Regions from separate parts of the Homo sapiens genome. Here region 1 is linked to region 2. Evidence: fine-mapped expression QTL. A gene starts in region 2. The other region holds a variant in brackets. All regions are shown on one strand. Distances are from middle to middle.

Evidence for each region. PIP is the estimated chance that this variant, and not a neighbour inherited with it, causes the effect. A credible set is the group of variants that fine-mapping cannot tell apart.
Region 1: its variant is the best candidate, but not a certain one, in a credible set for the expression of SLC67A1 in prefrontal cortex (BrainSeq, PIP 0.67).

The regions. Positions count from the first base shown.
Region 1 is chr11:2,877,113-2,882,585 of GRCh38, reverse strand. No RefSeq gene overlaps it. Among named protein-coding and RNA genes, the nearest start is that of CDKN1C, 5.9 kb to the left of the region's middle. The variant G/C (reference allele first, on the strand shown) is at 3,335.
Region 2 is chr11:2,899,254-2,904,471 of GRCh38, reverse strand. SLC67A1 (solute carrier family 67 member 1) reads right to left here and starts at 2,194. Exons shown (of 11, transcript NM_002555.6): 1 at 2,108-2,194; 2 at 983-1,258. The coding sequence starts at 1,126. It overlaps SLC67A1-AS (SLC67A1 antisense RNA), which reads left to right and starts at 897. Exons shown (of 3, transcript NR_169305.1): 1 at 897-1,013; 2 at 1,763-1,888. RefSeq lists an enhancer at 506-1,007 and a silencer at 1,933-2,062.

The DNA.
Region 1 (5,473 bases), 22 kb after region 2:
GTGGCTTCTGATAACCAGGCTTTGGTGGAAGAAGTCGAGGCTGAGTGCACCCCTGTGCGCCCCCACTGTCCACCCTACCAGCCCCGAGTTTCAAAGCGCTCCCTCTTAGTAAAAGAGACGTTTATTATTTTAATAGCTGACCTATAAACCTCTGAAAATTATGGCTTACAATGGAAAGGGTGATGTAAAATAGCAAAAACAGAACGGCTAGCAGTATTTTTGCTGGTGCCTTGGGCTGGGAGAAGAAAAGAACTGGTGGACCCTTACGGGGCCCTACGTGACAGTTGCTGACTTCCTCCTCCCACCTCCACCGGGGGCAGGGACAAAGGGGGGCTCAACTTGAGATGGTCGAGATGTATTTAGACATGTAATTAACTGAGCTCCCCCCAGCTGCCTGGAAGGGCTGGGCGGGGAGGGTGATGGGCCTGGCCTCGAGGCCCAGCTGGGGCCAGACTCCGGGAAATGCCCCCGGGACCTGAGAGTGGCAGGTCTCGCTGCTTCGGCTCAGCAACAGGGACCCTCAGCTGACGGTAATGAGGGACCAGACCCATGTAGACCTGGCTTCGGCCTTCCAACCTCTCCCACAGGGGAGAAACCTCCACATTCACCTGTGTGAGGAGGACAAAGCCTTTTCCCTTCTGAGATAAAGGAGGGTGGCAGTGCCTTCTGCCTTGGGCTGGGAGGAGGCTGGACCGGGTGCCTGGCAGGCAGTTAGTGGGTGCACAGCGTAACCTGAGTTAACTGTTTGTGGTGACCGATCTGCTGGGTTGGGGCCTCATCATCCACAGCTGCATCTGCTGCCAGGCCTCCTGCTGCAGCTGGGGCCGGCGGGGCTCCTACCTTGCTTAGCTTCTTGCAGTCCTGGCCCTTGGGCACAGGACATGTGGTTGCCCAGCACCCTCTTGTCACTCAAGGGTAGCTTTCTCAAAAGCAGTGTGAGGCCTTTGTGGGGACGTGAAGGTGAGGCCCAGCGCCATTTCTCAGGAGGAGTTTCTCCCCAGGGCAGGAGCTGGCTGCAGGGATGCACAGGCCACCAGCCTCCATGGGCTGCTAGTCACACGTGGGACTCTGGGCACATGTGACCCAGGCAAGCTAGCCTTTCCTTCTGGGGGGCCTCGGTTTCCCCATCTGGGCTGAGAAACGTCCAGGGTTTTTTCCAGCACTGTGTTCTGTGATTCTCACGTGGGGACAGCCATGGAAATAATACCTGATGGCACTGTTTGCAAAGCTCTCTTCTCACCCATGCTGTTGGGAAAGAGCAGATAGGAGCGTGCGTCCTGGCCCCCAGGCCTCATCCAAGCTGAAAACACAGGCACCGGCTGGCAGCCAGCACACTCATGGGTCTGCCGTGTGGGAGTCACGCTCCAGCTCCACTGGGGATCCACAACCATCATATGAGCGATGACACCAGGACCGCCAGGCACACAGCAATGGCTTTTCTCTGTGCCAGGCATATGCTAAGCAGGATCAGCGTCAACCAGGTCCCACTGTTTTCCTTGTTTGAAGAGGAAACTGAGGCATGGAGTAATCCACCTGAGGTCACACTCCTGACCTTGGCAGGGCAGAGGGATGTTGGGCTGGGGTGCTCTGGGGCCGGGCCTGGAAACCATTGCACTATCCTGTCCCCTGGACTGGGCTGGGAAGACAGGCAGTTGCTCCGTTAACCTACAGACAGTCCAGATGAAAGTGATGAGGGAGAAGGGTGAATGTGTCGGAGCCAGGGGATCAGGGTGAGGCAGGAGAGATAAGGCAGGGGAGGCTGCTGGTGCCAGGGGGCCTTGGTGGGCCTGGCCTGCTGGTGTGTGTGAGGCCGGCACACGGGCGTACATGTGGTTCAGTGTAAGGGTGTCTTTTGGGTGTGCCTGCTGGGCCTCCCCCTTCCCTGCCCTGTCCTACTGGTCTCCTGTACCTCCCCGGGCCTGATGGACTGGTGCCAAAGATTGGATTTTGTCAGCCAGCAGTGGGGAGCCCCGGAGGGACTGAAGCAGGGAGTAGTAGAAGCATCTCAGCTGCTGGGTGAGGAAGGAGGAGCGCCAGCAAGAGGGAAGGGGGTGAGGGGACCAGAAGGACACTGTGGCCATCCAGGCAGAGGGCAGAGGCACTGGGTTGGGTGGACACTCCAAGAGGCTCCAGCATGCCAGCCCCTGTTCCAGGCACCAGAGACTTAGCAATGAATAGAGAGACAGCAGTCCCTGCTGCAGGCGCTTTCTCCACTGGTGACATCAGAAAACCCCTCCAGTGGGCTGTGGTGCATACAAAGGTGGTTGGTGTGGGGGGGTGGGACAGAGCTGAGCCAAGCACCAGCCTAGCCTTTAAAACAGGAGGGGCTAGGAAGCCCCTCCTCCAGCTCCCAGCAGGTGACATAGCAGGTAATGGTGTCTGAAGAGCACTGTTTTATTGTTAGTTATTTTTTGGTTCAATATTATTAACTGAAGTCCATAGGTTACAGGAGGGTCCGTTCTCAGTGCCGTACATTCTACGGGTTTGGACAAATGCTTACTGTCCTGTGTCCACCATTACAGTATCATACAAGGTAGTTTCACTGCCCTAAAAATCCTCTGTGCCCCACCTATTCATCCCTCCCTCCTCCCTAGCTCCTGCAACCACTGATCCTTTTACTGTCTTTGTAGTTTTGCCTTTTCTATAATGTCATAGATGTGAACTCATACAGCATCAGCCTTTTCAGATTGGCTTCTTTGACTTAATAATACTTAAGGTTCTTTCATGTCTTTCCATGACTTGAGCTCATTTCTTTTTAGCACTGAATAATATTCCGCTGACCGGAGGCACCACAGTTTGTTTACCCACTCACCTCCTGAAGGCTTCCAGGTTTGGGCAATTATGAATAAAGCTGCTATCAACATCCACGTGCAAGTTTTTGTGTGGATGCAAGTTTTTGACTCATCTGGGCAAATACCAAGGGGTACAATTGCTGGATGGTGTGTGGCGGATCATATGTGAAGGGTACATTTAGTTTTGTAAGGAGCCACCAAACTATCTTCCAAAGTGGCTGCACCATTTGTGTTCCCACCGCAGCTCCTGTTAAAGCCCAGCGTGGAGAGTTCCTGTTTCTCATCTGTGTACCACACCCACCACCAATTTCAGATGAATTAAAAAACAGAAACCCTACTACAATGTGGACACGGCAAGGACAAGGCATAATTCCAAACGAACACTGATGACCGTGGCTTGATCTCACGGCCCCGGCTGGTTCGGCCTGGCTCGGGGTGAAGAGCCTGGGCCCTTGGCCGTTCTTCATCCAGCTGGCCCTGTAATGAATTGCATGTTGTCCAAATATCTGCCTCCCCAAATGCAGGAAGATTCTGCATTTCCC[G/C]CACGTCAATATCAGACGTGGCCATGTAACTTGCTCTGGGCAGTGAAACGTGACCCACTTGGCATGTACCATTGCCAAATGGAGCCCGTCAAAGCCAGGGTCCTGCCGTTTCATCCCTCTGCTGTGAGACAAATGAGACCTCAGACAGGGGCCGCCCCTTCCAAAAGAGAAAATGGAGTACAACCCCAGCCCTCCAGCGAAGGGACTGTCGTGGTGAGTGAGAGATCCTCCATGCTTGATGTACGCTGCCAAGAGCTTTGGGCCTGTTTGTTATGCAGCATAAGGTAAGCTGACAGAGACAGGTTCCTTGAAGACCCAACTCACTGTTCGAGGTTTATGGGAATGACAGCAAGGGCCTGGTGGCATTTTGAGTTGTTCTGGTTACTTGGACACATGTCCAGAAATGACGCAGAGACTCATCCCTGCAAGCTGTGTTCAGTGTCCTGCTGGTGTTGGTCTAGCTTGTCACATTTGCAGGCTGGAGGTCAGGTGTTTCCAGCTGGTAGTGACGGGTCCTGAGTTCCCTCTTGGTTACCATCTATCCTGCTATCGTGTAGTTTTATGTGAGTGCCTTAACAACTGTCTAGTAAGTCATCTTTTTTTTCTTTGATGAAGGAATAAAATGATTGTGATTTGGGGAAGGGTCAAAGTCTCAGAGATGGAGCTGGCTGCCCACACTCTAGCATCCTGAAGAAATCCTGGCTGGGTGCGGACGCTCATGCCTGTAATCAAAGCACTTTGGGAGGCTGAGGTGGGAGGATCACTTGAGCCCAGGAGTTTGAGACCAGCTTGGGGCAATATAGCAAGACTCCATCTGTAAAAAAATTTTAAAAATTAGCCAGCTTTGGTGGTGTGTGTGCACCTGTGGTCCCAGCTCCCTGGGGGACTGAGATGGAAGGATCACTTGAGCTCGGGAAGCGGAGATTGCAGTGAGCCATGATCAGTTGTGCCACTGTACTCCAGCCTGGGCGACAGTGTGAGCGAGACCCTGTCTCAAAAAAAAAAAAAAAAAAAAAAAGTGGCTGGGCGAGGTGGCTCATTCCTGTACTCCCAGCACTTTGGGAGGCTGAGGCAGTCAGATCACGAGGTCAGGAGATCAAGACCATCCTGGCTAACACGGTGAAACCCCGTCTCTAATAAAAATACAAAAAATTAGCCAGACATGGTGGTACGTGCCTGTAATCCCAGCTACTTGGGAGGCTAAGGCAGGAGAATCGCTTGAACCCGAGAGGCAGAGGTTGCAGTGAGCCAAGATGGCACCACTGCACTCCAGCCTGGGCGACGGAGCAAGACTCCGTCTCAAAAAAAAAAAAAAAATCGCAATTGCTTATTCTGAAAATTAAAAATTGTGTTATTTAAGCCTTGAAGTGGTTGTTTCAGGGGCAGCTGAGATATTGATTATATCACCAAGCTCTGCTCCATGGGCAAGCCCCTTGGGATAAAAAATGAAAATGGCCTCTGATGACCTAGTGGCGCCAGGAAGAAAACGCTCTGATCTTAGCTGTTACTTGAAAGCCCTCAGGGGCAGGACTTTCTTGGCAGGGCTTGCCTGCTCCAGTGTCAGACAGCTGTGTGTACTCACCATTCCCTTCTGCCCCAAATCACAGCCACTACTCTGCTGTTCAACACTGAGGCATAAAGTCGGGTGTGGACAGGCAGCCGGTACCTCCTCTTCTGTTAGCATGATTACACCTGTTCTCATGATCTCCTGCCAAGTAAACAACTATCCCAACACTTTGTGGTTTAAAACAGTGGTTTTAGCCGGGTGCGGTGGCTCACGCCTGTAATCCTAGCACTTTGGGAGGCCGAGGTGGGAGGATTACGAAGTCAGGAAATTGAAACCATCCTGACTAACGTGGTGAAACCCCGTCTCTACCAAAAAAATACAAAAAATCAGCTGGGCGTGGTGGTGGGCGCCTGTAGTCCCAGCTACTCGGGAGGCTGAGGCTGAGAATGGCCTGAACCCAGGAGGCCGGAGCTTGCAGTGAGCCGAGATTGCACCACTGCACTCCAGCCTGGGCGACAGAGCAAGACTCCACCTCAAAAAAACAAAAAAACAAACAAAAAAACCCAGTGGTTTTATTTATACCTATGATTCTATCAGAAATTGGGGAACAGTTGGCAGAATAGCTTGGCTCT
Region 2 (5,218 bases):
GCCTTCCCCACGGGTAGGGAGGAGATTCAGGGCTTGGCCCCAGCCATTTAGCAGGAGTGGGCGGGGCGCCTGAGGCACGGCGGGGAGGGATCCTTAGGCTCACCCTCGGGCTGGGAGCCTCTGCCAGGCCCGGAATGGTGCCAAAGGCCCATCCCCACTCCCGCCTAGATGCCCAGGTCCAGGCTCTGAGGGCTGAGAGGAGGAGGGCAGCTGTCTGAGCCCACGCACGCCGGGCTTCCCAGAAGCAAACACAGGAAGGGCCGAGGTTGGCCCTGACTCTGCCTGAGCTTCTTGGTGATGTGAGACTTTGTTCCCAAGCCTCTCCAGACTTGGTGAATATAATTTAATCATTACTATTACAGCTTCCAGAGCCACACACTGTGGTATAGACTACTGAATGATACACTAAACTAACATGAATTTGCCAATGAAATGTTTCCGCATTTGGCAACAGAGATAATAAAATAAGACAGCATTCTATCTCTTGCAAGAAAAAGCTTGAGATCAATTTGCCGCCACAGATCATTTAGTGGACAACAAGGACCCAAGAAGATGGAGGGGAGAGATAGAAGCTGCGGGCAGGTGCAAGGAGAGCCTCTCTGAGGGGTGATCCGCCCAGAGCCACACCGGATTGAACAGCCCTTGGGGCAGGGACTCCAGAGGGCAAAGGCTGCCGGGTGAGAGGCAGGAGGAACAGCGCTAGGAAGGTTTGAGGAGGTGCTGCCCCCAGGAGGGAAGTGGGGTGGCTCCCCATGGCTTCTCCCGGGGCTGGCACTGAAGCTGGAGCACAGGATGTGCTGACGGGGGTCCAGAGGCAGAGTCCTTAACTTACTCAGCTTAAGCGTGGCATGAGTCCCAACTGGGAGGGGCCCTGGCAGCATGAAACCCCCACCCCCACTCTCTGCGACGGCCCAGATGGAGGGCAGGAGGAACAGCGGTTCAGCCCTGGCTGGGGCTGCAGGGGCTGGGGTGTGTTACTCACTGGCACGATGGAGAACTGCATGAAGAGGCAGGTAAGTTCTGTGGCGGCCAGCACGTAGGTAAGCAAGATGACCGAGGACCGGCCTAGAGCGCTCATCCTGCCGGGGGACCGGCCCTGGTCCCTGGGAGCCCGAGCTCCCTGCATCCTGGACAGGCGCAGCAGGGAGACCCAGGAGAGATCCAAGCAGGAGGCTGGCGGAGCAGGGGGCAAAAGTCCAGTTGATCCGGGCAGGGGTGCTGAGTCACTGGGTCCCAGGCAGCACCCGCCTGGCCTTGCCTGCAAGAGAGGACAGCACTGCAGGACCCCCTCCCCAGTGGAGCTCTCCTGCTACCTGGACCTTAGAGGACACATCAGGGGGTCCCCCTCCTCCACTTTTGACAGCTCTGGTCTCCAGGCACACAGCCTCCCGGGGAGGGGAGACAGGGACAAGCTGCTCCCCCCGACCCCTGCAGGTGGGCCAGGCTCAGTGCCTGGTTGCCTGACACAGGAATGTGCCATGCCCCACTTTTAGAGGGAGGCAGAGGCTCGGAGTGGTGGCTGAGTCCACCTCAAATCATCAGCGCCTTCTGTGGCCAGAGGGCTGATGTGGGTCCCTGTGCCTGGAGGCCCTCCGTAGGCCCACAGTGGCCCTGTCCCCAACACAGTGCAGCTCTCAGGGAAGGTCTACCTTCCCCTGTGGCCAGCAGCCAGAGCTCCAAGGGGCTTCTGGAATGGTCTTGCGTAGGGGAGACATAGCTCAGCCTTCCAGGCTCCCCAGTAGCTCTGCCTTACCTCCCACAGCGGAGTGCTGTCTGTCCCCACCCTTCCCCGCCCGGCCTCCAACTGGTGGGAACTGGATTTTGCGGCTGCAGAGGACTTCCCCAAATTTTGCCACATTAACAGCTGACTGCACATCTGAGCCCCGAGGTACCGAACCCAGGCTGGTGGGGTAGGGCGGGGAGACCCCTGAGGGTCCGGGAGCTGCGCCTGGCGCCCTCCCCCATCCCGGGATGCAGGGAGGCTGGGGGGAGCAGGGCAGCCGCAGCAGGCACGTCAGGGGCACCTCATTGGGCAGAGGTGCGACGCTGCGCCGGAGTTCGGGGTTCGGGGCTCAGAGGCCGCCCTCTCCGGAGTGTGCTCGAGTACCTGCCTTTGCAGGGGCGGGCTTGGGCACGGGTGCCGGTGGGGTGAGCGCTCCAGGGTGACCTAGACACCGGTCCTTCCGGGATGAGCCCCGGCCCCGCCCTTTCGGGAGATGACTTGCAACAGGGACCGCCCCTCTGGGTCTGAGTTCCAGCCCTCGCGCTTTGCAATCGCCAGTTCCGGGAGCGCCCGTGCCACGGTTTCTGCGCTCTCACTGGCCGAGCCCGCCCCTCCCCTCGAAGGACCCGCCCCTGCCCCGCCCACCAGCGGGCTCGCCCCGTGCCCGGCTTCGCCCGCCCCAGCCCCCTCCAGCTTGAATCCTGCCCGGTGCCCGGGCTGCTGGAGGTGGACACTCTGACCCTCAGGCAGCACCGGTGTCCACTTTGGGCCTGAGGAGGGGCAGTGTGGGCAGGGGATGGGACCGGGAGGTGGAGGGAAGGAGAGAATGGAGGGGAGGCAGGGGCGGGGAGAGAAAAGCGGAGGAATGGTGGTGAGGGGTTAGGGGAAGAAGTCAGGGGAGGTTGTAGAGGGTGTGGTGTAGCCTGGCCCTGCCAAAGGTCTGCACAGAGCCCCAGAAGAGTGACCAGGAGACAGCTCTGGGCCCCTCCTCACTTCCCTCCCCAGACCCGGAGGCTGCTAGGAGCAGTTGAGAGCCCACTTTTCCCCATTTCACCCTGCCTGCCACTTCCCCACCCTTGCAGGGGCCACCAGAGATGCCAGCACACAGGTAAACAAGCCTCATGCCGCCCTCCGCAGCAGGAGCCGCTGGAGCACACACACCCCACGCTGCGCACACTTGGCCCAAGCCCTGCCCTTGGCCTGGGCACCATTCTCCGTGCCCCTGACTGTCACTAAGTAGGGAGATGCTCATTCAGGACTCCTGCCCCACCTCCTCCCCAGGCAAGGGCTGGGCACAGGCTCAAATGTCAAAACCAGTGTCCCCCTGCCATGTGTCAATCATCGCTCCACAGAGCAGAAAACTGCAGGGGTGAGACAGGGTGGGACGGACATCGCAGAGGCGAGCGAGAGCCGGCCAAAGTCCTGGTGGGCAGGGGGGCCAGAGCCAGGTGGCCCAAGGCCGGCTGGCTAAGCCATTCCAAGTCACCGTGGGAGTGGTTCAGCAGCTACCCTTCGTTCAGCAGCTCAGATATGTTGGGCATCAGAAAACAATACCCCAAAATGAAGGCCTCAGAAGCAGCTTCGGAAGAAAAAGTGTTTCTCTGACCTTCTCTTGCTCTCCTGTCTCTCAGTGCCATTTTCCCCGAAGCTGGCCTTAGAAACTGGAATCCATTTTCCCCAGGGCAGGTCATAGAAATCAGAACCCCGCCTTTCCACACAGCCAGACATCAAACCTAAAAATATTGCTCTAACTTTCCCTCCACCTTTGTGTTTAGAAGCTGGCCATAAATTATCTGACCTCTCTTGTTTGACTGTAGGGCATAAGACCCCATTCCAGGAGGGTCCTGCTCCATGCCCAGAAGGAAGGAATGCTGCTCAGAAAGTTCAAGAAATCTAGACCAACAGCCCTCGCTGCGCTTCCCCTTGCGGTCCAGGAGCATTAGTGCAGGTCCCTTGGTTCATCTGTGTTCCCGCATGGATGTCCATACTTTGTTGAGCCTAAGCATCAGAAATGGCAATTTCCCCCATATCTTTTTTTTTTTTTTTTTTTTTTTTTGAGACGGAGTCTTGCTCTGTCACCCAGGCTGAAGTGCAGTGGCGCGATCTCGGCTCGCTGCAAGCTCCGCCTCCCGGGTTCACGCCATTCTCCTGCCTCAGCCTCCCGAGTAGCTGGGACTACAGGCGCCCGCCACAGCCCCCGCTAATTTTTTTGTATTTTTAGTAGAGACGGAGTTTCACCGTGTTAGCCAGGATGGTCTCGATCTCCTGACCTCGTGATCCGCCCCCCCTCGGCCTCCCAAAGTGCTGGGATTACAGGCGTGAGCCACCGCGCCCAGCCTGTTTCCCCCATATCTTTGGGTCTTTGTTCTGAAAACTCCCATTCACACACGTCAATCAATTTGGGGACCAAATGCCTTTTGTCCAATCAATCTGCCCTCTGTGAGGTGGTTTCTTAGCAAGCCCACGGGTGCAGTGTACCGCTCGAGGGGATTCCAGCCCAAAGAGTGCAAACGTGTTTGCATCTGGAGTGCGTGTCCCCAGATCCTCTGCCAAGCTCGTTTTCAAGAATAGTCACCACTGGCCGCCCTGGGGACTTGGGGAGAGTGCAGTCAAGCCGAGAGCCCAGGTCCAGCCAGAGTTTCCTGGAAGGACTGCACAGAAAGGCCGGCTGTGTAAGGTGGGGGTGGGTGACAGGAGTCTCAGAGTGTCTTAGATTTGGGACTCCTGGGGGAGGATGGGCATCCACATGAACCCTTACTCAATGGGGCAGGTGTGAGGGACTGTCCCCAACAGGTTCCAGACGCCTCCTGGGTTCCCTGGGGAGGGCTTAGAGGATGAAGCGGCAGGAGGAGATGGGATGAGTTACCAAACTGCCCAGAGGTGTGCGAGGGAGGCTGAGGGTCCTCTGGCGCTGAGGTGTGGTGGAGATGCTGGAAACTTACCACTGTCTTCCTCCAGGTGAAGCAGGGCCTCAGGTAGCCAGGGAACTGGTTGAGCAGAGGAAATCGGAGAGACCTTTTTTTTTGTCATGAACAGGCTCAGTGTGAATGGGGGAACTTCCTGGTTCTGAGGGAATGTGGGAAAATTGCCCTTTAGGCTGGGTGAAGAAGAAAGCAAGTGGAACCCTGGCACCCCTGGACTTCCTCCTCCAGAGGAAGCGGCTTTGGTTGTGGGCCAGCGAGCCTGTGCGTCCCCAGCCCCAGGGCATTCACCGCTTCAGAGAAGCAAGGCGACAGTTCTGCCGGATGAGAGGATCCAGGCTGACTGGAGGAAGGAAGGGCTTTGGCTCATCTGGGCTCAGGTTTGGGAGAGGTGGCTTCTCAGAGGAGGTGATGCCTCAGCCAGTCTTAAAGGTGAGCACGGATTGTTTGGGTATGGGAAGGGCATCCTGGCTGAGAGAATAGCATAGATAACGGCTTAGAGGTGAGCCCAGGCTTGGAGTGTTCAGGAAGCTGAGCCACTGGAAGGGGCTGGGACCAAGGGTGTACAGTGGGG